Linked DNA regions of Homo sapiens: all the other regions are linked to region 2. A link means that fine-mapping ties the variant in region 2 to the plasma level of a protein whose gene starts in the linked region. Region 2 holds a variant in brackets. A gene starts in each other region. All regions are shown on their reverse strands.

What was found. PIP is the posterior inclusion probability: the model's chance that the variant is causal. The UK Biobank Pharma Proteomics Project read protein levels with antibody pairs (Olink). The fine-mapping took linkage between variants from a reference panel, not from the people measured, so its PIPs are less certain.
Region 1: it holds the start of CHCHD10, and the variant in region 2 is fine-mapped to the plasma level of the CHCHD10 protein (UK Biobank, PIP above 0.99).
Region 3: BCHE starts here. The variant in region 2 is fine-mapped to the plasma level of the BCHE protein (UK Biobank, PIP above 0.99).

The regions. Positions count from the first base shown.
Region 1 is chr22:23,765,502-23,773,672 of GRCh38, reverse strand. It overlaps CHCHD10 (coiled-coil-helix-coiled-coil-helix domain containing 10), which reads left to right and starts at 5,701. Exons shown (of 4, transcript NM_213720.3): 1 at 5,701-5,839; 2 at 6,080-6,299; 3 at 7,398-7,545; 4 at 7,647-7,839. The coding sequence starts at 5,799. The coding sequence ends at 7,666. It overlaps C22orf15 (chromosome 22 open reading frame 15), which reads right to left. Exons shown (of 6, transcript NM_182520.3): 6 at 7,810-7,952. The coding sequence ends at 7,941. It overlaps MMP11 (matrix metallopeptidase 11), which reads right to left and starts at 824. Exons shown (of 8, transcript NM_005940.5): 1 at 695-824. The coding sequence starts at 802. LOC107985577 (a long non-coding RNA gene) reads right to left here and starts at 5,447. Exons shown (of 3, transcript XR_007068022.1): 1 at 4,880-5,447; 2 at 2,366-2,486; 3 at 1,296-1,804. RefSeq lists enhancers at 6,564-7,363, 7,364-8,163.
Region 2 is chr6:89,328,502-89,336,650 of GRCh38, reverse strand. UBE2J1 (ubiquitin conjugating enzyme E2 J1) reads left to right here. Exons shown (of 8, transcript NM_016021.3): 6 at 1,220-1,349; 7 at 3,446-3,565; 8 at 6,694-8,149. The coding sequence ends at 6,972. Among named protein-coding and RNA genes, the nearest start is that of GABRR2, 17 kb to the right of the region's middle. The variant C/G (reference allele first, on the strand shown) is at 6,700.
Region 3 is chr3:165,833,955-165,842,138 of GRCh38, reverse strand. BCHE (butyrylcholinesterase) reads left to right here and starts at 4,716. Exons shown (of 4, transcript NM_000055.4): 1 at 4,716-4,825. RefSeq lists an enhancer at 4,604-4,898.

The sequences.
Region 1 (8,171 bases), not on the chromosome of region 2:
ACTCTGCTGTCCTCTCTTACCTGGGCTTTCTTCTCCTCTCCTGAGCACACATTTTCTCCCTTTCCTTTCTCTCCCCGCTTCTTTCTGACAGCCACCTCTCAGTCACACACACACTGCACTCATACTATTTCATACTCATGTTCTCCTGGCTCCAAGCCTCCCAAAACTGCTGCCGGCAGGTGCCCGCGGGGGACATCTCCAGGCTTAGACCCCATTTCCCGCAGCACAGCGCTGCCCTCCCTTCTCCCTTTATCCTTCATCCCACCGCACACCTGGAGGTGTACTAACTGCGGCCACACACCTGCAGGCTGACACCTGCCTGGGATCTGCTCGGCTTTGTCCCTGCGATGAATAGGGGGCCCTGTTACCACTCCCTCTGCTGCTTCCTTCAACGCACACTCCAGCACCCGCGGCTGGAGCGCGAGAGGCAGGTCCCCACGCTGGGAGCAAGCGTGAGTCCAGCGTGGAGTCCCGTCCCACCAGCCCGAACGATGCCGGCGCCGGCTCCCCTTCACACCCCCAGGGACTGCAAGCTCGCTGTCTATCACGCCTAGAGGGAACCAGAAAGCGTTTCGGGTACCGGGCGCTGGAGGCCACCCGGGGCGCCCCCTTCGGTCCGGATCCGCCGCTGGGCCCAGCCCGCGTGCCCGGCGCCCCCTCAGCGAGGAGCGGCCGGCGAGTGGCGGGCACTCACCGGCGGCAGAGCCCGGGCCAGCAGCGGCGGCGGCTGGAGCAGCAGCAGCAGCATCGGGGGCAGGAGGGCGCGCGCGGCCGCGCTGCGGAGCCAGGCGGCCGGAGCCATCCGCCCCGGGGCTGCTGGGCTTGCTGGGCCGCTCCGGGCCGCCGCCCCTTATAGCTTCCGCCCCACCCCCGGCCCGCCTCGGCCCCGCCCCCCGCCGCCTTTTGTTCTGAACTCTCCTAGCAGCCGCGGCCCGGGTGGGGGAGGTGAACGGGGAGGGTACGGCCCAGCGGGGTCGAGGGCCGGAGACAGGGTCCTGCCCCGGGGCTGGCAAAGTCCCTATCTGGTGCTGGGTGACCCTGGCCAACCCGTGCCGCTCTGGGTCTCAGTTTCTCCTCTGGGTGGTGGCCGTCCAAAGTCTTAGACTTGGCTAGAGTCTGAGAGGAGTCAGGTTTCATGGGTCCCATCCGTACCCCCACCTTTGGAAGGCGCATCCCACTGGGTCTCCTTGGTGGCCTGACCTCTGACCTCTGACAGGTGGTCCTACCCACAAGCAAGTTCCCCCACCCCTCAGAGCCTCAACGGATCCTTCTAGAAGATGACACAATAGCCCCTGTGAGGAAAGGGATATTATTTTATTTTTTATTATTATTATTTTTTGAGACACAGTCTCACTCTGTCTCCCAGGCAGGAGTGCAGTGGTGTGATCTCCACTCACTGCAACCTCCGCCTCCCAGGTTCAAACGATTCTGCTACCTCAGCCTCCCAAGTAGCTGGGACCACAGACGTGCGCCACCATGCCTGGCTAATTTTTGTATTTTTAGTAGAGATGGGGTTTCACCATGTTGGCCAGGCTGGTCTCGAACTCCTGACCTCAAGTGATCTGCCCACCTTGGCCTCCCAAAGTGCTGGGATTACATGGGGAAGCCATTGCACCTGGCCAGGAAAGGGATATTAAAATGTGTCCCAGGGGAAAGTGAGGCATATGGCAGGGACTGGCCAGTTCTTCAGCTTGGGATAGACCGAAGTTTACAGATAGGGAAACTGAGGCTCCAAGAGGGAGGGTCCAGGCTTTTCCACACCAGCAGACAAGTGGAGGGGTCAGGAGGTCCTCTAGCTGGTCAGCTGTGGGAAGGATGCTGTCAGAAGGCTGTGGGAGGTGTCTGAGTGGAGTACTGGGCCCCCAGGGTGTCCCCTCGTCAGTGCCCAACAAGCCCCTGGGGACCCCTCCAGGCTAGCCACCTCAGACTTGAAAGAAAGGAGGCGAGAGGCCGGGCGCAGTGGCTCATGCCTGTAATCCCAGCACTTTGGGAGGCCGAGGCAGGTGGATCACGAGGTCAGGAGTTGGAGAGCAGCCTGACCAACATGGTGAAACCCTGTCTCTACTAAAAATACAAAAATTAGCCAGGTGTGGTGGCACACACCTGTAAGCCCAGCTACTCAGGAGGCTGAAGCAGGAGAATCACTTGAACCCGGGAGGCGGAGGTTGCAGTGAGCCGAGATTGTTCCATTGCACTCCAGCCTGGGTGACAGAGCGAGACTCCATCTCAAAAAAAAGAAGGAAAGGAGGTGAGACTCAAAGGAGGGGTTGTGTCCACATTCTGGAAGGGATCCTTCAGTCTCATCCCTGATTTTCGGGGTTACCCAGTACTGCTGTACACCCCCTGAAATGATGAAGGGCCTCACCACCTCACCAGGCGACCTGTTCCATCATGGGTGGCCCTGCAGAGCCACGATCCAGGCAGTGGCTCGCATCCTGGCAGGCAGGGCTCTGAGCTGCTCAAAGGTGAGGCTGTGGTCAGGAAGCCTGGGCCAAGAAAGGGAAGCGGGTGGGGAAATGTTTCACAGCTTATTCAAGAAGACTCCACAGAGACTCCTAGAGGGCGAGGAGAAGTAAGACAGCAGTAATTTTTACAACCTACACTGTTCGTAATCTTTTCTTTTTTTTTTTTTTTTTTTTGAGACGGAGTCTCTCTCTGTCGCCCAGGCTGGAGTGCAGTGACGCGATCTCGGCTCACTGCAAGCTCCGCCTCCCAGGTTCATGCCATTCTCCTGCCTCAGTCTCCCGAGTAGCTGGGACTACAGGCGCCCGCCACCATGCCCAGCTAATTTTTTATATTTTTAGTAGAGATGGGGTTTCACCGTGTTGGCCAGGCTGGTCTTGAACTCCTGACCTCAGGTGATCCACCCGCCTCGGCCTCCCAAAGTGCTGGGATTACAGGCGTGAGCCACCGCGCCTGAAAGGCAATCTTTTCTTTAAAGTCACTCACTTTTATTTACTTTTATTATTTTGAGACAGGGTCTTGCTCAATGGTGTGATCTTGGCTCACTGCAACCTCCGCCTTCCAGGCTCAAACGATCCTCCTGCCTCAGCCTCCCAAGTAGCTGGGACTACCGGTGTGCATCACTATGCCCTGCTAATTTTTGTATTTTTTGTAGAGACAGGGTTTCACCATGTTGGCCAGGCTGGTCTCGAACTCCTGGACTCAAGCAATCTGCCTGCCTGGGACTCACAAAGTTCTGGGATATAGACATGAGCCACTATTCCCCGCTAAAGTGACTCATTTTTAAAAAGTAGGCATTTCAGGCCAGGCGTGGTGGCTCATGCCTGTAATCCCAGCACTTTGGGAGGCTGAGGCAGGCGGATCACAAGAGACCATCCTGGCCAACATGGTGAAACCCTGTCTCTACTAAAAATACAAAAAAAAATTAGCTGGGCATGGTGGCACGTGCCTGTAGTCCCAGCTACTTGGGAAGCTGAAGCAGGAGAATCACTTGAACCCGGGAGGTGGAGGTTGCAGTAAGCTGAGATCACACCACCGCACTCCAGCCTGGCAACAGAGTGAGACTCTGTTTAAAAAAACAAAAACAAAAACAAAAAAACAACAAAAAACAAACAATTAGCGGGGCATGGTGGCATGTGCCTGTGGTCCCAGATACTCGGGAGGCTGAGGCAAGAGAATCGCTTGAACCCAGGAGGCAGAAGTTGCAGTGAGTGGAGATCATACCACTGCACTCCAGCCTGAGCGACAGAGCAAGACTCCGTTTCAAAAAAAAAAAAAAAAAAAAGTTGGCATTTCAATGCCTGCTTCAGTGTCATCCTTTCAGCCTCATTTTCATTTGTGTAACCCACTTAAGTGGTCTTGGGTGCCTCCGAGGTGCAAGGCCATGCTTTGTGGAACCTGCAGTCCATCAGCCATGGGAGCTGAAGTAACAACTCTCTGCAGTTTAGGCCCGGGGACCACCATGAGAAGTGTTCAGTTTGTTTGGTGTGGCAAACAGGAACCAGGTGGCATGGACTGCATGAACAAGGGAGTAGCGGCTGGACCAGGCCTGGTGAGTCTGCCAGGAAAGAATGGCCCACCCTTGGTGTGCTCACCTCACTGGGAGGCCACCCTCAAGGTGGGTGGTCACCCCCCTTCAGAGAGGAGAAACTGAAGACAGGGCGGGGAAGGGCCCTGTTCACAGGCTGGCTGAAAGGACTGCAGTGTGAGAGAACACAGGGCTGCACCTGACTTCCATGGAGAGCATGCATGGCTGGGGACAGCTGTGCACACACAGAATTGAGCATGCCAGGCAGGGCCAAACGCCCCAGCCACCACTCCCCTTGCCCCTTGACCTGCTCCTTCCTTATGGAGGGGCCTCCTCTCTTACTTGGTGACCCACACCCCCACTTCTGGGTGCTTTTGCTCTTGGTTGCACCCTGCCGACAATCCCGGTGTCAGGAGTCCTCTGCAGGCACAGCAGTGATGAGGGACAGTCCCTACCTTCCCCCACCTAGGAGTAATAATATGACCACTGCAAAGTCACCCAGAAAAGACCATAAAAACCTCAAGCTCAGCCGGGCGCGATGGCTCATGCTTGTAATCCCAGCACTTTGGGAGGCTGAGGTAGGAGGATCATGAGCTCAGGAGTTGGAGACCAGTTTGGCCAACATGGTGAAACCCCGTCTCTACTAAAAATACAAAAATTAGCCAGGTGTGGTGGCACGAGCCTGTAGTCCCAGCTACTCAGGAGGCTGAGGCAGGAGAATTGCTTGAATCCGGGAGGTGGAGGTTGCAGTGAGCCGAGATCGCCACTGCACTCCAACCTGGGCGACAGAGCAAGGCTCCGTGTCAAAAAAAAAAAAGTAAAAAGTAAAATTAAAACCTCAAGTTCTCGAAGAGCAGGAAAGCATTCTAAATCCGCGCTCCAGCTCACCTGGCCTGGAACGAAGCTGCTAAAATTGCGAGGCCGCAGGCTTCAAACTTGCGCTAGATTTGACCGAGCCGGGCAAATGCTCCTAGGCCTTTGGGATAGACACGCTGCTCGGATGTCGCGTAAAGGCCGTTAGTGTCGGGGGTTGCACTCGCGGGGCCAGGGACTAGGTGGGGGCGGTCGGGCCGGCCCGGGGAATCCGGTGGGGTTCAGGGCCGCGCGGGGGGCCTCATATCCCCCGCGGGCACTGCGTAAGGCTGCCAGCATTGGCAGCGCATTTTGGCCAACAGTCGAAGACGGGTTGGGACGCCCCCTCGTGGGAGTTCTGGGGATGGGTTGCTCCAGGCCTTCCCCAGGGCCGCGCTTCACTTCCCTAGGCCACCGGAGACTCCCAGGCCACGCGGTGGTCAGCAGACCCTGTCTGGAGGGAGGGGACAGACAGCCGAGTCCGGGAGGGGGCAGAGAGCGGAGTCCAGCCTGGAGCCTCGCGTCCCCTTCCCAGCTGGCCCCATCCCGTCGCCTCCCCGTCTCCTCTCCCCTCCAGGGCTCGCAACAACCCCCAACTCCGCTCCCTGCCCTCTGCGGTGGTCCTAACAGAAGGCACTGTCGCCCTCCTTAAGCCCTCGGCGCTTTGCGACACTGGCCCCTGTCCCCAGAACCCGCACAGCCTGCCAGGCGCAGGGAGGGAGCAGGGTCCCATTTCCAGCCGAGACCCGGAGCTGCTGGAAGGGAGATGTCCGGAGGACGGGAGAAGGGGGATAGGGTTGGGGGCAGTGCCGCCTCCCGCTGGGGGCGTGTTCCTGAGGCCCCGCCCGGGGCCCCGCCTTTTTTGCGCCGGCTGTGACAAGCGCTGCGGCATTTGTCCCCGCGACAGCACCGCTGCCGCCGTCTCTAAGGTCGCCCGGGTCCCACCGCCGCCACCATGCCTCGGGGAAGCCGCAGCGCGGCCTCCCGGCCAGCCAGGTGTGAGGGGGACAAGGGCCCTGTGGGGAGGGGGTTAGGGAAGTGTGGGCACTCCCCTAAGGGCGTCCGCAGAGTGACCTTGGCTGCTGCTGCGCCATCTTGGCGGGGGGAGGGGTGGGGGTGCAGCACCCACGTGTGGAGACGTGGGTCGTCCATCTCTCCGGGGGTCGTTTCCAGGAGCTGCAGCCCTCCAGCCTGGGGTCTGGCCAGGATTAACCCTGCTTCCTCCCACCCCCGCAGCCGCCCAGCCGCGCCCTCTGCCCACCCGCCCGCGCACCCACCGCCCTCGGCAGCCGCCCCAGCCCCCGCCCCTTCGGGCCAGCCGGGGCTCATGGCTCAGATGGCGACCACGGCCGCAGGGGTAGCCGTGGGCTCGGCTGTGGGACACGTCATGGGCAGCGCCCTGACCGGAGCCTTCAGCGGGGGGAGCTCGGAGCCCTCCCAGCCTGCTGTCCAGCAGGTGAGCAGCGAGTCCAAGAGAAACTGAGGCAGGATTATCTCGAGGCCACACAGGGAGCTGCCCAAGTGTCCAGTGAGGAGTGTCCGCGTGTATTCACCATTGCTTCAGCCCAGGACTCTGCCCGGGAAGGGTCCTAGTCCACTGGTCTTGAGTTCACTGTCACTTAGAGGCAGGCTTCCCGGCCTCTCCCTTGAGGCCAGGGTCCCTAAGCTCCCAGGGAGAGACACCAACCAGCCCTTTAAAGATGGGAAACCCAGGCCCTGAGGGCTCAGAGACTCGCCCAAGGTCACCTCACCCTAGCAGAGGGGAGGGATGTTGGATTTCCTGAGCCCCTGTTCTCCCCACACCCAGGTCTGGGCACTGTGGCCGCTGGGCGCAAGGGCGAAGGGGAGCCACTTCCCTGATGACCTTTCCCCTGCTAGGAACCCCACCGCCGTAAGCCAAATGTGGCTTTGTGGCTAGGTCAGGGGTCATGAGGATTAGTGTAGCTGAGCCAGGAAGGTGCTAGAACTTGTGGGGGTGGGGCTCATACTCTGAGAGTACAGGCAGAGTACTGGGCTTTCCTAGAGCCTTCTCCTCCCTCTCCTGCACCCGCCCAAAGTGCCCATTAGAAGGCAGCAGAGGCCAGGCGCAGTGGCTCATGCCTGTAATCCCAGCACTTTGGGAGGCCAAGGCGGGTGGATCATGAGTTCAGGAGTTCGATACCAGCCTGGCCAACATAGTGAAACCCCCTCTCTACTAAAAATACAAAAAATTTGTTGGGCATGGTGGCGGGCGCCTGTAGCCCCAGCTACTTGGGAGGCCAAGGCAGGACAACCACTTGAACCCGGGAGGCGGAGGTTGCAGTGAGCCGAGACTGCGCCGCTGCACTCCACTCTAGGTGACAGAGTGAGACTCTGTCTCAAAAAAAAAAAAAAAAAAAGGCAGCAGAAACATGCTGTCTGTAGCCGCCTCTGCTGCTGGATCACTCAGCCTGCCTAGGACCCTTGGGACACCCAGGCTGGGGATGTGGGGAGGGGCAGGTGGCCCCAGGTTTGAAACGCACCTCCAGGTGCCAACTCCAAGCTGATCCTGCAGCCTCTTGCACTGTACCCCCAGGCCCCCACCCCCGCTGCCCCCCAGCCCCTGCAGATGGGGCCCTGCGCCTACGAGATCAGGCAGTTCCTGGACTGTTCCACCACTCAGAGTGACCTGTCCCTGTGTGAGGGCTTCAGCGAGGCCCTGAAGCAGTGCAAGTACTACCATGGTGAGTGAGTGGACCCCGACTCAGGCGGGGAGGGGGAGAGGCCAACCCTCCTCTTGCACCTGCAGGCTGACCACCAGCCTGTGCTGCCCCTCCCTTCCCAGGTCTGAGCTCCCTGCCCTGAAGAGGTCGGTGCAGACTCGGGGGCCAGTCCTGCACCCACCTCTACCCCTCGCCGACAGCCAGACCACAACACCAGATTGTACCCAGATAGCTGGGATTGGAAGTGAGGAGGTTTCTCACCCCACAGATAACCCAAGACACAAATGTGCAATTAAAAGTTTATTTTAGACCACAGCCTGTTGTGTGCCTCTCTCGATGGCCTGTCTTCAGGGAGCTCCCTGGCTGATGAGGTGGGGTCAGGATGGATGTCTCACTACAGTGTGCAATCCATCCCCTTAATCAGGGCCCTGGGTGGGGAGGAGGAGCCCTGTTGCAATCTGCACTGTGGGTAGCACAGGACAGATTCCTTGGGCAGTCCAGAGTGAGGTGGAGAGGCATTAGTCGGTGATCCCAAGGGCATCTGACTCTGAGGGTGGAATCCCAGGATGAACCCATGGTCTCCCCCTTATCAGGGATACCTGCCACCTCTACCCTTCTTGTCTCTACCTCTGCATCCCATTCTCTGC
Region 2 (8,149 bases):
TCAATAAATACTAAATTAGGCTGGGCACAGTGGCTCATGCTTGTAATCCCAGGACTTTGGGAAGCTGAGGCAGGAGGATCGCTTGAGCCTAGGAGTTCTGGACCAATCTGGATAACACAGGGAGACACTGTCTCTACAAAAAAAAAAATAATAATAAAATGAAATAAAAAAAAAAAATAAAATAAAATAAAAATTAGCGGGGTGTGGTGGCACACACCTGTGGTCCTAGCTACTTGGGAGGCTGAAGTGGGAAGATCACTGGGGTCTGGGAGGTTGAGGCTGCAGCAAGCCATGATTGCACCACTGCATTCCAGCCTGGGTGATAGAACGAGGAGACCCTGTCTCAAACAAACAAACAAACAAACAGAAAAACTAAATTATTGCTACTTTTACATATATTTTGTTTATATGATATTTCATAATTTTAAATAGCATGTTCTTCAAGACCTAAGGTTTTTTAATAGAACTAGAAGTACTATGAAAAACAATTTTTTAGAAGGAAGTTTAACAGTGTAACAATATATGTTTTATATATGATGCATGTTTACTTTCAGTCATTCATATCCTCAGAGGACTCTTGTAAACTTCAAGGAAGTTTTGACTATATCTGGAATACAAAGGGAAAAATGGAAAAACAAATATATTTTAGAAAATAATCTAGTTAACAGACATATCCTGAGTCTCTACCTAATGTATAATCAGCAATAAATTAAGTCTTTGGATTTTCTGCAAGTTCTCCCAAGTCTTTCAAGTTATACTGCTATTTGTGAGGGGTTTTTTTTTCCCTAGAAATATCTGTAAATTCTATGTTTAATTAGTTTCTTTACTGCTTTATATATATTTCTGCTAACAGATAATTTGATCTTGTTAAAGGACTTTTTTCACAGCCTTAAAATAGGTTTGTTATATGTGATCTCAAGGACAGTATAATAGACAATTTTCTCATTGTATAGATGTAAAACTTATTTTTCTTTAGATAGTTTATTGGAAAAAATAGCATCTGAGCCCTGGATTTTTTTAAAGCCAGCCTAACATTTACTTGTCTCAGGACTATAATCATTACATTAATTTTCTAATTCATAGCATGTGGATAAATGTGATGTGGAATTTTCCAGTGTTCCTTTCTTTTAAGTTTAATGATCGAGCATTTGAGTGTCTCAGTGAGAGGGAATTAAACATTTAACTATTTATTTTCATTTAAAAAATCTTTTTCTACTAGATCACAAGATTTCTGTTGTGAAGGATGTGGCTCTGCCATGAAGGATGTCCTGTTGCCTTTAAAATCTGGAAGCGATTCAAGCCAAGCTGACCAAGAAGCCAAAGAACTGGCTAGGCAAATAAGCTTTAAGGTACTATAAATTCTTAAATAAATGCTAATCTTGCAACCCTTTTGTTTACTGCTGGATTCTGCATAGAAAGGAAAGCGATGCAGTTCTATTACAATATGACATTTGCCAATGTTTTTCTTTTTTCATATTTTTATATTTTTAATTTCTGTGGTTACATAGTAGGTGTATATATGTATAGGGTACATGAAATGTTTTAATACTGGCATGGAATGTTTTTCTTATTACAAAATTCCTAACTACATTCATGAAAGCTTTATAGAATAGTGAGGGAGTGAAACTTGAACTCTGGTATACAATGCCAGGGTTCAAATCCCAGCTCTGTTGCTTATTAGTAGTATGATGTCAGACATATTAATTAACCACTTTGTGCCTTTTTATTATCTATAAATAATAATGGTACCTAAATCATAGGATTGCTGTGAGGATTGAATTAATATATGTAATACATGTGTTGCATTCAGAACTGTCCCTGGTGCTTAATAAATTCTAGCTATTATTACAGAATATATAGATAAGCAACAAGAAGAAAATGATGGCCGGGCGCGGTGGCTCACGCCTGTAATCCCAGCACTTTGGGAGGCCAAGGCGGGCGGATCACCTGAAGTCAGGAGTTCGAGACCAGCCTCAACATGGAGAAACCCCGTCTCTACTAAAAATACAAAATTAGCCAAGCATGGTGGTACATGCCTGTAATCCCAGCTACTCGGGAGGCTGAGGCAGGAGAATTGCTTGAACCTGGGAGGCAGAGGTTGCGGTGAGCCGAGATCGCGCCATTGCACTCCAGCCTGGGCAACAAGAGCGAAACTCCATCTCAAAAAAAAAAAAAAGAAAAAAGAAAAAGAAAATGACATTCATAATCTCACCGCCAAGAAATAGCTACTGTTAATATTTTGGCATCCCTCCTATATATCCCTTTTTTCTGTATATGTTTTACCCGAACATAGGATTATATAATATTTTAATACTTTGAGTATTAAATATTTAATTATTGAAGGTATTAGCTGGGCGCAGTGGCTCACGCCTGTAATCCCAGCACTTTGGGAGGCCGAGACAGGCAGATCACGAGGTCAGGAGATTGAGACCATCCAGGCTAACACGGTGAAACCCTGTCTCTACTAAAAATACAAAAAATTAGCTCGGCATGGTGGTGTGTGCCTGTAATCCCAGCTACTTGGGAGGCTGAGTCAGGAGAATCGCTTGAACCTGGAAGGTGGAGGTTGCAGTGAGCCAAGATTGTGCCTCTGCACTCCAGCCTGGGTGACAGAGTGAGACTCCATCTCAAAAAAATATAAATAAATAAATACATACATACATACAGACGTAAAGTATTAAGTATTTAATCCTTCTGGAATTTAATTAGCTTCACAAACAGAAATGTCAACCTGCATTAAGCAGCATGCTCTCTTCCTCTTCCCTCTCCACTTCTCTATGGACTGTCTGTCTTTCCAGGTCCAGTTCCCTTCTCTTTTATTGTAGTGCCTGGAGGAGGAGTTGCTCAGAACATGTTTACTTTCTTCCTTCTGAGGATTCCTATTACACTTAAAATTGCTTCTGAAAAATCTCAGGACCAAATGTGTTTTGTACATGAGAATTTTTCAGACTTAAGAAAAGATCTTACATATACCATATATTAACTAACCTGCCGTGCGATCTGGGGCAGCACCTCATAATCAAATCCATTAGGATTTCTTCAGCAAATCTGGGAATATTACATTAATGTGGGATTAATGTTTACACTAATGTGGGATAAAGACTATTCATAGGTTCACATCAGCTCATATCAGGCTTTGCCTAAAAATTACCAAAAAAACCTTGAGTTTTGAGAGCTTTTTAGCATTGTGGATTGTGAACCATGGGTGTTAGTTTTGTCCCTCATCAAGTAACGGCTTCTTGAGAACAGGTGTTGTGTATGCTTCTTCCTATGATACCTAGTACAGTGTTGGACACAAGAGTGCTCAGTGATTAACTGCCTGATAATAGATATTAAACTAGCAATTAAAATAAATCCAACAGAGAGGATTTAGCAGGTTGTAGATTGTGTATGTTTCCTGTTGTTTCCTGTTGTCACACTGCTCTTGGGTCTATCTTGTTTATAGGCAGAAGTCAATTCATCTGGAAAGACTATCTCTGAGTCAGACTTAAACCACTCTTTTTCACTAACTGATTTACAAGATGATATACCTACAACATTCCAGGGTGCTACGGCCAGTACATCGGTATGGCTCTTATCTTTTAATATATATGTATGTCTCTATCATTATCACTGTTTGCAATAGGAGGAGAAGATCCTGGATCAAATATCTGAAAAATTTGGTTCTCTTAACAACTGGATTCTAACTCATCAGTCCCGCTAATGAATTATTATGTTGAGCAAGTTGTTCATGCTTTCTGGCCTCAGTTTTCTTTTTTTGTTAAATGGGGCTGGATTAAATAATTTTTGTCTTGTCCCTCCAGAATTCTGTGATTCTCTGAAAAGTTAATTTTAATATAGTGTTAGACTGAATAAAACAAAATATCCATATGTTAGCCACTTTCTAAATAGACACTATTTTTGGCAGGATTGTTCAGCTGCATTAAGGTACTGACTTAATAAAGTCGTAGAGCCAAAAATTTACTTAGACTTGCTCTGTCCAACACAGTAGCCACCAGCCACATGCAGGTGTCTACATTTAAATTTAATCAAAATCAAGTAGAATTTAAAATTCAGTTCCTCAGTCACACCACATTTCAAGTGCTCCATAGCCACATGTGGCTAATGGGTACCATATTGGACAGTGTAGACATAAACATTACTATCATCACAAAATTCTGTTGGACAATGCTACCTCGTATATACTAAGTGTCCAATAAATAATTGTTGAATAAAAGAATGAATGCTATGAGTGTTGTTAGTGGTGCCCTGACCTGTTGTCTAAGAAATTGTTTGGCCTAGGTGATCAGAGAGAGTGATTTAAAAAATATGACTGGATTGGTGCCAAAAAATAAGGATTATGGGAAAAAAATGATTTTCCTTCCTATATATAAAAGATTAACTGTCTTTGGAAGTCTTTTTGGTAACAGATTGTTTGGTTAAGTAGTCACATTTTTTTTGTTGTTGTTTCTCCAGTTTATTGAAGACTTTAAAGGGTGAGGGAAAATTGAAATAGAAGTTGGGCAAATATAGATTTGCCCTTTACCCAGCAATAACGTACGTAAAGTGGGAGTGAATAGTCTTGAGTGAGTCTCTCCTATTCAGAGAGTGAGCTGGGCAGAGAAAAGTTGGTTGAAGAAGAACAGGGTGGTAGTCTAGGGGGACTGAAGATGGAGGTCCAAGAAAAAAGTGTGTAGCGATGAGTTTAAATCATTTTTGTGTGATCCCAATGTAATTTTATGAATTGCAGGGGAAAACAATGAATTAATTTTAAGGTCAATATGTTTTAGTTCAAGATATTGAAAAAGCTTTCTAATTACTTTTTATTTCATAGTTTTTTTTCTAATAGAAGCATTCTATTACAAAAAGGAAGGTGGTAATCTTTTTTCACCTTTTAGGACAGCCTCCTAATGTTTGTGATGTATTTAAATCTTTTGTGTATTTTCAATCTATGTTAAGTCCCCTTGTTACATATTCCAGTTATACTTATTCCAGTTGTAATTTACTTTGTAATTATTTATTGTCTATCTCTCTTCCCAGAATGTAAGTTCTGTGAGGGTCAGGGGTCTCTTTCCGCTTCTCCACTGTATCCCCAGTGCCTGGCTTAGTGCCTTCTATATAGTAGATTGCCAATGTTTGTTTGTTGATTGAATGAATGAATCTTAGGATTGGTACTTTAAAAAATGCTAAGAATACAATTAAATAAATCAAGAAGTTTAAGTAAATTAGAGTGTACAAATAATGATGTTATTATAGTAGTATTTCTTGTTTTGATTTAGTACATAAAACTTAGAATTCTTATTCATAGATACAGGTCATTAATTGAGACTATTTTTAGTGAAAATACCAACAAGCAATAAATTGTCTAAAATTGCAAGTTAAGTTTTTAATTATATTTACATATAAACTATCTCAGAGTATGATTATATAATTTGACCACTATGAAAGTAACTGAAACCTGGTTTGGCTAAGGGTGGTTATTTTACATTAAGTATAATATAAATTAATTGAGATGTTATACATCAAATCCCAGATAAGCTATGATTTTTTTGTTGTTGTTAGCCTGAAGGAGAGGCAAGAGATTGCCACAACTCTAAATACCTCAGATAACATCAGGCCATCTGTTGCTTTTTAATGCAGATATTTTAGCATCAAAAAGCAATGGGAAATGTAGAAATGGGAAAAACACTGAAGGCAGTTTTGTTCTTGCAGTCTGTCAGATTTTCTCCTTTTCCCAGGGTAGGGATCGAGGTTCTGAATAAGCCATTTCATTTTATAATAAAAAGCAAAACTCCCTCACACATGCTGGTTATTCTAGAAAAATTTATATATATATCACTAGGGACTTAACTAAGAATGTGATTTTTTATCTTTTTAAGGGAGAGTCTCACTCTGTTGCTCAGGTTGGAGTGCAGGCATGTGATCATAGCTCACCGAAGCCTCAACCTCCTGAGCTCAAGTGATCCTCTTGCCTTAACCTCCCAAGTAGCTAGGACCACAGGTGGGCATGACCACACCTGGCTAAGTTTTAAAATTTTTCTGTAGAGATAGTGTCTCACTATGTTGGCCAGACTGGTCTCAGATGCCTGGGCTCAAGCAGTCCTCCTGCCTCAACCTCCCAAAGTGCTGTATGATTGTTTTAAATAGGAAAAAATTTAGAATTTTATAATATCAAGGCACTTAATTTTTAGTTAGTGATATACCATCCAAAAGGCATCTGAGGCTGGGCACGTTGGTTCATGCCTATAATCCCAGCACTTTGGGAGGCCAAGGCAGGAGGATCGCTTGATCCCAGGAGTTCAAGACCAGCCTGGGCAATGTAACAAGATCCCATCTCTAAAAAAATAATGATTAAAAAAATAGAGACAAAAGGCATCTGAAACATAGGAACCTAATTAAAACATTATATGTATATACATATTTTCATTAAGCGTATGTGTTAAAATATCATCTAGACCAATGTTTTAAGGGATTGTTTTTCTAAATATATTAATAAAACTATTAAAAGGCCAAAAAGCTGTCCTAACTTATGACTTTTTTTTGAACCTAAATTTAGATGCCCCTCAAGGGATGTATTATTAGTAACAATCATTCTTGGTAGTGTTGCCCTTAGTCATATGTTGTCCTCTGAGATTGTGTATTCTTGAATAGATAACAAGTGTATTTACAAATCTTCTTTGCCAGTTTCAAACAAAGTTTCTTAAAATTTCCTAGTACGGA[C/G]TCCAGAATTCCTCAGCAGCATCCTTTCATCAACCTACCCAACCTGTAGCTAAGAATACCTCCATGAGCCCTCGACAGCGCCGGGCCCAGCAGCAGAGTCAGAGAAGGTTGTCTACTTCACCAGATGTAATCCAGGGCCACCAGCCAAGAGACAACCACACTGATCATGGTGGGTCAGCTGTACTGATTGTCATCCTGACTTTGGCATTGGCAGCTCTTATATTCCGACGAATATATCTGGCAAACGAATACATATTTGACTTTGAGTTATAATATGGTTTTGTGACTTATGAGCTGTGACTCAACTGCTTCATTAAACATTCTGCATTGGGTATAATCTAAGAATTGTTTACAAAAAGATTATTTTGTATTTACCCTTCATTCCTTTTTTTGATCCTTGTAAGTTTAGTATAAATATATCTAGACATTCAGACTGTGTCTAGCAGTTACGTCCTGCTTAAAGGGACTAGAAGTCAAAGTTCCTTGTCTCACTATTTGATCTGCTTTGCAGGGAAATAACTTGTTTTTTCTCATGTTTCATCTTCTTTTTATGTAAATTTGTAATACTTTCCTATATTGCCCTTTGAAATTTTTGGATAAAAGATGATGTTTTAAGTTCCAATGAGTATTACTAGTTACTCAATACCACTTATTGAGTACTCTGTTTCTACGTATGTAGAATGTATAGGGATAGAAGAGTTGAAAAGGGAAAGCAAAACTCCTCAAGTAGCTTCCTTAAAATGTCATTCATAGGAGATGTACTGGAATTGCTCATTCTGTGACTTTATTTGTGTCCTAAACATTCTTCAGTGAAAATAATTTTATTTCAGTCAAACATTTATGAGGAAATGAGATCACATCTTTGTCACTGGATGCTACTTGAAGAGGGAGTACTTTGTAACCACTTTGATATGCTGTTATCACCACCCCCTGCCCTCTGCTGCCATAATCACACAAATTTAAAAAGAAAGAAAACAGTCTTCCATAGATTTTTAAGGAAGAAAGGGCCCAAGCCAGGAGATCGCTTGGTTTTCTTCCAGAAGTTAAATGGGGGGATCTGAAGATTTGAATGTTTGGTCTGCTTTGAAATGTATGTCTTTTGGGATGTATTATATGCCTAGCTTTATAATCAGTATAAATTTTAATTATTCCAGGAATATGCATAATATTGAAATATTTCATGTCCTATTTTAATAGAAAACCTCAGGGCCCAAGTAACAGTGATAGAAGTTAGAAAAACCTTTACTTAGAATTGTCCACCTAGTCAGAGCCCAAGAAAGAATTTTCAGTGGAAAAATCAATATATAACTTAGTGCTAGCTAGCGCCACAGACTCTAGTAGATAATATTATCATCATAATGGCTGGTGAAACCATATAATCACAGAAAAACATTGCCTTCAGCATGTTCAGTTCGCAGCACTGAGGGCACTCTTGAGGGTGTTGTTAATG
Region 3 (8,184 bases), not on the chromosome of region 2:
CTTTGCCTCTTAGTGTGTAGTTTGTGAACTCCCTCTATCAGCTTCACAGAGGACAGTAGTATAACGCTGTCCTCAAGTCTACTGAAACCAAAGCCCAGGGATGTGGCCTAGAAATCTGGATGTTTAAATAGCACTTTGATGAATTTGATAATGTGTTACTTTGCAATTTTTCTGAGAGTGAGACTCCAAAGATAGTCAAGGGTTTGGGAAGAGTAAATTTAAGCCAATTCAGTAAATTAGGTGATAAACAAAGAAGCTTGCTGTTTTTCTCTCTTTTTTTATGTTTTAAAACAATGAGTTTCTCCTTTTTTGCTCAAGCCCTGAACAATTTAGTTCAGAATTTGTTTTCTTACTTTGATTCTGCTGGCTTTGCCAATTCCATGAAAATCCACTTGGCACCACATTTCCTTAGAAGCTCTTGCTTTTTCTTGATTTTCTTTCTGTTCTTAGAGTCTAATATTCTAGTGTCTCACCAAATTGTTGTTGTCTCTTTCCAAAACTCCTTTAACCAAACTATCTGTATCTTCATGTAAAAGGCACCACAGACCTCCCATCACTCACTCTCCCTTAACCCCAAAATATCTATGTGTTATCCCTTACAGATGTCACTTCCTGCAAGGCCTTCCATATTAGTTGCTACAACATCACTAAAGAATTTTATTACCTGTGGCTCTGGACCTACTTCTAATATCTCTGGAGATATCCACCTTCAAACACCTGCCACATCCAGCTATGAGGGTCTAGTACCTGGGCTCCAGAGACATGTTCAGGTTAGTTCTGATTATAAGAACATTTCTCTTTTTTGCCAGAATTGTTGGAAAGTTATCTCTATTCAACAGTCTGTGTAGGATTTCAGAAGATTGAATATACATATAAATATATATACATACACACATGTATATATACACACACACATATATGTATATGTACTTTGTCCATGTCGTATTTGGTTATTCCAATTCTGGGAAAATAAATTAAGAAAATAATTAAAAGATGCACTCAAATATCGATATACAAAATGCCTATTGTAATAATACATAAAAAAAGTCAGAAGCTAACCTCGGTATCTGTATGATTTGGAGCAAGTTACTTAAACTCTTTGTGGCTATATTTTCTCAAATGTAAAATAAGGTTAATAATAGTGCTTATTTTAAAGGTAGTCATGAGTTTTAAATGAATTCATGTATTCAAAGTGGATAGAATAGTGCTTTCAAATAATATTTATTACCTAAAATTATTATTATCATCATATAAGTAACAAGAGATACAATGAACCATAATATGCCCATATGATAATATATCACACAGTAATCAAAATATTTTAATAGGAAATTAATATCATAAGATAAAAAGCAAGAAGAATGATGATAAGCCATTTGACTACCACTATATTTATCTATGTAACTATAACCACATACACATATTTTAAAAAATTGATTGGAATATACAAAATGGTCTTTTCATTCTCTGTGATATGTAAAATGTAGAAATATACTTTTCTGGGCTGGATGCAGTAGCTCACACCTATAATCCCAGCACTTTGGGAGGCCGAGGTTGGTGGAGCACCTGAGGTCAGGAATTCGAGACCAGCCTGGCCAACATAGTGAAATCCTGTGTCTACTAAAAATACAAAAATTAGCCAGATTTGGTGGTGGGTGCCTGTAATCCCAGCTACTCAGGAGGCTGAGGCAGGAAAATTGCTTGAACCCAGGAGGCAGAGGTTGCAGTGAGCCGAGATCCTGCCACTGCACTCCAGCCTGGGCGACAGAGTGAGACTCCATCTCAGGAAAAAAAAAAAAAAATCTATCTATCTATCTATCTATCTATCTATCTATCTATCTATCTATCTATCTATACTTATATATACTTTTCTTTGTTATCCATATTCATTTCAGAGAATGCAGTGCTATTGTAAAAAAAATGAATAAAATTAATATAAGTTTAGAGCACTTTTTTGGCATCAGTATGCCTAAGGAAAACTAATGTATAATACAGGATTAATGTTTTTCACACCATCTCAAATCTTACTGAATGCTGCTATCTAGAAAACAGTGGTAACTGAGTTACAATGGGACCTTAAAAGCAAAAAACCACTGTGACTGGCTAACTGAAAGTGATCATAGAGCCAAAACCATAATGATTGTCCTGCCCAAGCTTCAGCATATATGGTTGCAAAATGTGCGCAGTGTTAATGCCGTGTCAAGTGTCTTGTGGTATTTCATCAGTGTCGCTTACAAGGCATACTCAACATTTAACAGCAGGATCATTAACCATCCATGCTGTGATGTAATGGAATAGTGCTTCCCTACTAACCCTGAAACAAGCTCACTGTGTGTGACCTACATCCTTCCGCTGGATGAGTGTGAGAAAATGATGACACCACAGAAGCAAAGCAGCTGCTGTAAGTTGAGCCACAAGGAAGAAACTCTCAAGACAGGAAGAATAAATGCTTTAGAGGTGCACTAAAATAATGAATGAACTAATGTGGCATAGCTGTGAAATCATGCGAGGAAAAGAACTACAGGGACAGTAACAGAAGGTGGTTCTTTGAAGTAAAGACATTGAGAAGAAGAAAAATTGCCAACTTGTGTAATCAGTTGATGTTGCTAGTTAGCCAGTTTAAACATGCGTTAAAGATAAAGATCTGCTTGAAACCAATTATTTTATTGTTTGGCTTCCTGTTTAAAGATGAAAATGAAATATGTGTATATATGTGACATATTTTACCTAGCAGTGAGTAGATGCAGGAAGCATGTAAAATGCTTTGCTGAATTCACTAACGTCACAAAATATTCCTTAATAATTGCCGCGTTTGATAGGCTGACCTTATGCTAGCACAGGAAACAATGCAGTGGACTTGGGTTGGAGAGAAGAATTTTGACATTTGGATTTTTAAAAATCATGTATATTGAACCCATGAACTCTCATGTGGAACATCAGATTTACTATATTTTAAACAGAAATGCCATCACTATAAAAACCATTGCAAATTTGTCAATATACTTCCATTTAAAAAGCCTTTTCCTGCTTTTATTGATTTATTGATTAATTTTTTTTTGAGACAGGATCTCACTCTGTCACCCACGATGAAGTGCAGTGGCACAATCGTGGCTTGCAGCCTCGACCTCCTAGGCTCAGGTGATACTCTTACCTCAGCTACCTCCCAAGTAACTGGGAATGTAGGCTTGCACCACCATGTCTGACCCATTTTCTTGCAGAAATTGAGTTTTGCTATGTTGTCCAGACTTGTCTTGAACTCCCAGACTGAAGCAATCCGCCCACTTAGGCCTCCTAAAATGTTGGGATTACAGTCATGAACCACTGTGCTCCACCTCCTTTTTCTCCTTTTCAGATAGATTATGTATTCTGTACCTTTTGTGTAACTAACTTGTTATTACATAAACTATATTCTAAATACATTATAAATTATTGTGATCATGATATTTATCATTGAATTAACACTGCCTAAGTAGCAATTTTCACAGAAAAGATAATTTTAAAAGACCAAAATGGTTATTCTCTTGGAAGCAGTTGACATAAAATAACAGAATAATACAGATTAAAATTCTGTTTTCCAACAGCTACTAGTGGTAAGAAATATAGTAAGCTTCTGATTTGTAGAAACCTTAGCTTTCTCATCTGATGAGGTGGTTAATAATATTAACTCTCATATTTGCTGAAATAATATAAAATATTTAATATAAATTGTCAATTATAATGACTGGCATAAGGTAGAATTACAACAAATGCTAATTATATTTGCTTGTTTGAAAATTTAACACTCTATTAAAAGGCAAAAAAGTGCTCACCTGCAAATATTAATACATGCCTTCTGTTTAGTCCATAGAAAGCCCACAAGTAAGAGATTCAAAAGTGAAAGCTATCACTTACAGAAGATTAAGAATATATTGCATTGAGAAGATAGGGATTAAGGAGTTTATCAAAGGTTTTTTAAAAAATTATTTTCCTGAACATCATTTCAAGAAAGATAAGCGCCAAAGACATAAATATATTCTCCAGAGCATGTGCACTGCAAGTTGACAAATGTGTCTCTTTTATAGAGTTTGGTGAAGGTTATTCATTTTATTTTTCCTGTCTTGACCAGAAAATTGTGGCTTCTCATCATGTATGACTGCCTGCAGGGTCTTCTGAATAGGAAATTACCAATGCTGAAATTTGTATGACTTAAATAAGTGTTGAAGTGTGGGGGTTGAAAGGAGATACATATCAGAGACATCCATTCAGTTAATAGAACTAAGTTTTTGATTTGCATAGCTTATATCTAGAGCATTGTGTTTCTTATTTTCTATATTACTATCTTCTCTAACTATATAATTAGCACAGATTGAAGCTATAATGGATTTCAATAATAGCACTACTTTAGAATGATGTATACGTCTTTAAATCTTAAGACAAGCATAGGAAATATGTATATTCTTAAAAAAAGGAAAATTTTTTTAAAGTTTAGAGTTAAAAGAAACATGCATTTTCTGTTACATTTCAGATTATTTTAGTTAAAGAATCTTCTATGCTTTTTTTCTTCATTCTTAGAAGACTACCTGCAATTGTAAAGCATGAATCCTGTAATACTTCTGTAAATGAATCACTATTGCATTTATACCATTAGCCTCTGAACAGATTTCAAGTTGCTGCTGCCAACTCTCGCGAGCTTTGTCAGTAACAGTTGATTGTTACATTCAGTAACACTGAATGTCAGTGCAGTCCAATTTACAGGCTGGAGCAGCAGCTGCATCCTGCATTTCCCCGAAGTATTACATGATTTTCACTCCTTGCAAACTTTGCCATCTTTGTTGCAGAGAATCGGGTAAGTTGCTCTGAATTTACACCTTCGTGTAGAGATCCAAGTTACTGTAAAGCTCATTCTGTGGGATGAGAGTGATCTCTTCATGTGTTTGTTGTGTCCCTTTGGTGCTCTGTGGGGAACAGTTACTGAAGCTTGCAAATGGGACAGAGGAAGTGAGCCAGCAGGCACATGCATCAAATCTTCCTATTATTCAGGGAACGCAGACTTTGTTTATTTAACTGCTGAGAAAATAATGAATTTATTCAACTCTGTATAAAGGACCATAGCACGTGTGGAATCACTGTGATATATATTCTTAGTGAGTTTCCTAAGAAAAAACATTTCATACTGGCTTACCCTTAAATGCATTGTTTATTGAATCTCTCTGTAAAAGTAATCTTTGATTAGTCTTCCTTTTTTTTTCTTTTTAAATGGGATAAAGTTAGTAGTTAACTTACTTTTTCCTGAACAAAATACTTTTCTCAATCAACATTTTGTCACCTAAAACTTTAACAGTAACAACTGGCAAATGAGAGGTCTGTTTATTTTATGTAAATAAAAACAAAACCTGTTTTCTAATTTGATTTACAGTGATTTATGAGCGTGTCCCCTTTGCCCTTTGTGTTCACTTTTTATATGTTTGTTTAAATTGTAGCAAAATATTTTACATTTGCTATTATTTTACTATTATAGAAATAGTAAGCAAATGTACTTTCTGCTCATCCTATAATCTTGTAAAACTATTATTTTGATAACATCAGTTCCACTTTAACCAGGGAATTAAATATTAAGGATTATAAAATCTATGAATGACTAAAAGTAAACTGAAATGTGATTTCATTGTTTATGATTTCTATTTATTATATATTTTTATTTTATGAGTATGTCTTCTACATTTTTATGAATATATTTCATGATAATAAACTCAATTAGGAGCTCCTGTCACTAGTCTGTGTAATGCCTTCCTTAATATAAACTATCTCATAGTTACAATAAATACAATGACAGTTTACTTATATAAGTAGTTACTTTGTTTAAGGATAAGCGTGAGCTTTTAAAGTGTGACTTTAACATTTGAATAAAAATCTTCAGAATTTTCTCTGGATATAAAATAAAGTAGTCTTTTGGATGCCAAATAAATTTCTAATTGGGTTATCAAAGTTCTGTTTTGTTCTCCTAATTTTTTGTTGTTGTTGTTTGTTTGTATTGTCCTAGTTTTTTAATTGTAAAAATATGTTTGGGATGTATTCCATATTTCATTTTTATAAAACATAAGCTACTAATAGCTAAACAAGTCACATCTTATCTATAAATTTGGTTCCTTCTTCGAGTCATTTCTTGATAAGTATAATATATATTTACATTGAATATTATCTTCATTTCGATGGTTTCTTGCCAGCATCTGCTCATTCTTACCAAAATTAGACGGTCCCAGATGTTAAGAGAATTGTAATTGAATAGATAGCAACCTAAGAGGAGATTTAATTTTCAGAGAAGACTCAAGAAATCTCTCTAATAAATGTTCAAATTATTCACACAATGAAGTTTGCAAATGTTCTTCCTAATTGAGGACAGATAAAACATCTTAAGTTTCTTATATCTAATGTAGTGTCTTCTATATGTATACATGCCTAAAGCATAGCTGAAGAATCCCTGAAAGACAGTGATGTAGTCTATTTATAATCAGACTTCCTCAATTCCCCACTTCACTTAGTCTGCAACAAAACAAGCTTTTTAAGTTTGATATAAAGACGTCGTTGTTCCAATTTCTTCAAATACATTTAAGAGAGCTTGTTCTAGATCATATTAATATTATCTAGATGGCTCTTTCTCTACCATTTTAAGAGGGTTTATTTCCAAGTAGAAATAAATATTTATTTAATTGTAACTTTTTAAAAGATAGGGAAATTATACACAGGGAAAATATTTTGAATATTTGCTTGAACATCTTTTAAAAATTCTTGGCTTGTCCCTTATTTTGAAAATCTGGTTGATATTCAAGTATCCCAAAAAATAGCTCTTTATACAAATTATTTTATCACACTCACATCTTATAGTATAACATTTAGTATTTTTTGTTAAAATCAGCTAGGGAATATTAATAGTACTTTCAAAATTGAATTAAAAATACAAAAAAAGATTTGTCACCTTTTTTATTTGAAAGTTATTGTTATAACAGTTTAGCATTTTCAAAAATTGCCAGTAAATTTTCTTAATTCCAAACAAAAACTCAGTTCCTCAAAAACTCAAATTCCTCAAAAACTCAATTCCTCAAAAACTAGAATGGTCTGAATTCCAAACAAAAACTCCTGTCTTTATTTCCAATATTAAATACTATTTTGATAAGCAAATTGATCTAAATTCAGATACACAGCTGTATTTGTGAAAATGTGCCCCATTTTTATGATAATGTTTATGCTACTATGTTCTCTCAGAATCATGTGAGACAGTATCCAATTGCACCAGAATTTATTAAAAGAAAAACGATCAAACCTGCACGTTGTGCACATGTACCCTAAAACTTAAAGTATAATAATAATAAAATTAAAAAAAAGAAAAACGATAATGTTTTGTTGAATATCCTAATCATTAATAAAAATTTTGAGATATAGACTCAATATTTTTATTCTATTTTCATTTATTTCTCTTTCGATTGCTCAATTACATGATAAACATATCAAAATTTTTAAAGTCTTTTAATGGCAAAACTACAGAGTAGCATGTTAGAATAGATAATACCAGATTATAAAAAGGGCAAAGTGATGCTTATTTAAAAAATAAAGTACTGCAATTAAATATAAAAACATTAGCCTACAATACACTAACAGTATATGAACATCTGCATATTTTTATATTAAAGTACACATTAAATAATATGTCATATGACACTCTGCAACAATACATATGAGTTAGCATTATATTGTCATTTTTGCAATGAATGCATGCTTACAAGAATTGCTTTGATTGTTACCAATTACATTATTTGCAAGTTGATAACTCAGATATCATTATCGAAAAATTAAAGATTTTAATTCATACCATATTATTATATAACAAGACCTACTCAGCATAAAATATAAATATCAACATATAATAAATTTTGTATTAAATCAAGTTAAGTGACATGGGAAGATATTACAACCATTTAGATGTTATAGCAACTGTTTAACATAAACAATGAAACATCACATTTCATAATTACACAAAACACAAATACAGTTTTGTAGCAACTATAGTACTTGCTTTGCAATAATATAAACTGTTTGTAGAACAAGTTTGAAAACTATCAGAGACCAAAATTTATTTCAATTTGGTGTTTGGTTTCTAAAGACAAACTAATATTCAAATAAAATCAAGGAAAAAATAGATGGCTTTTGCAT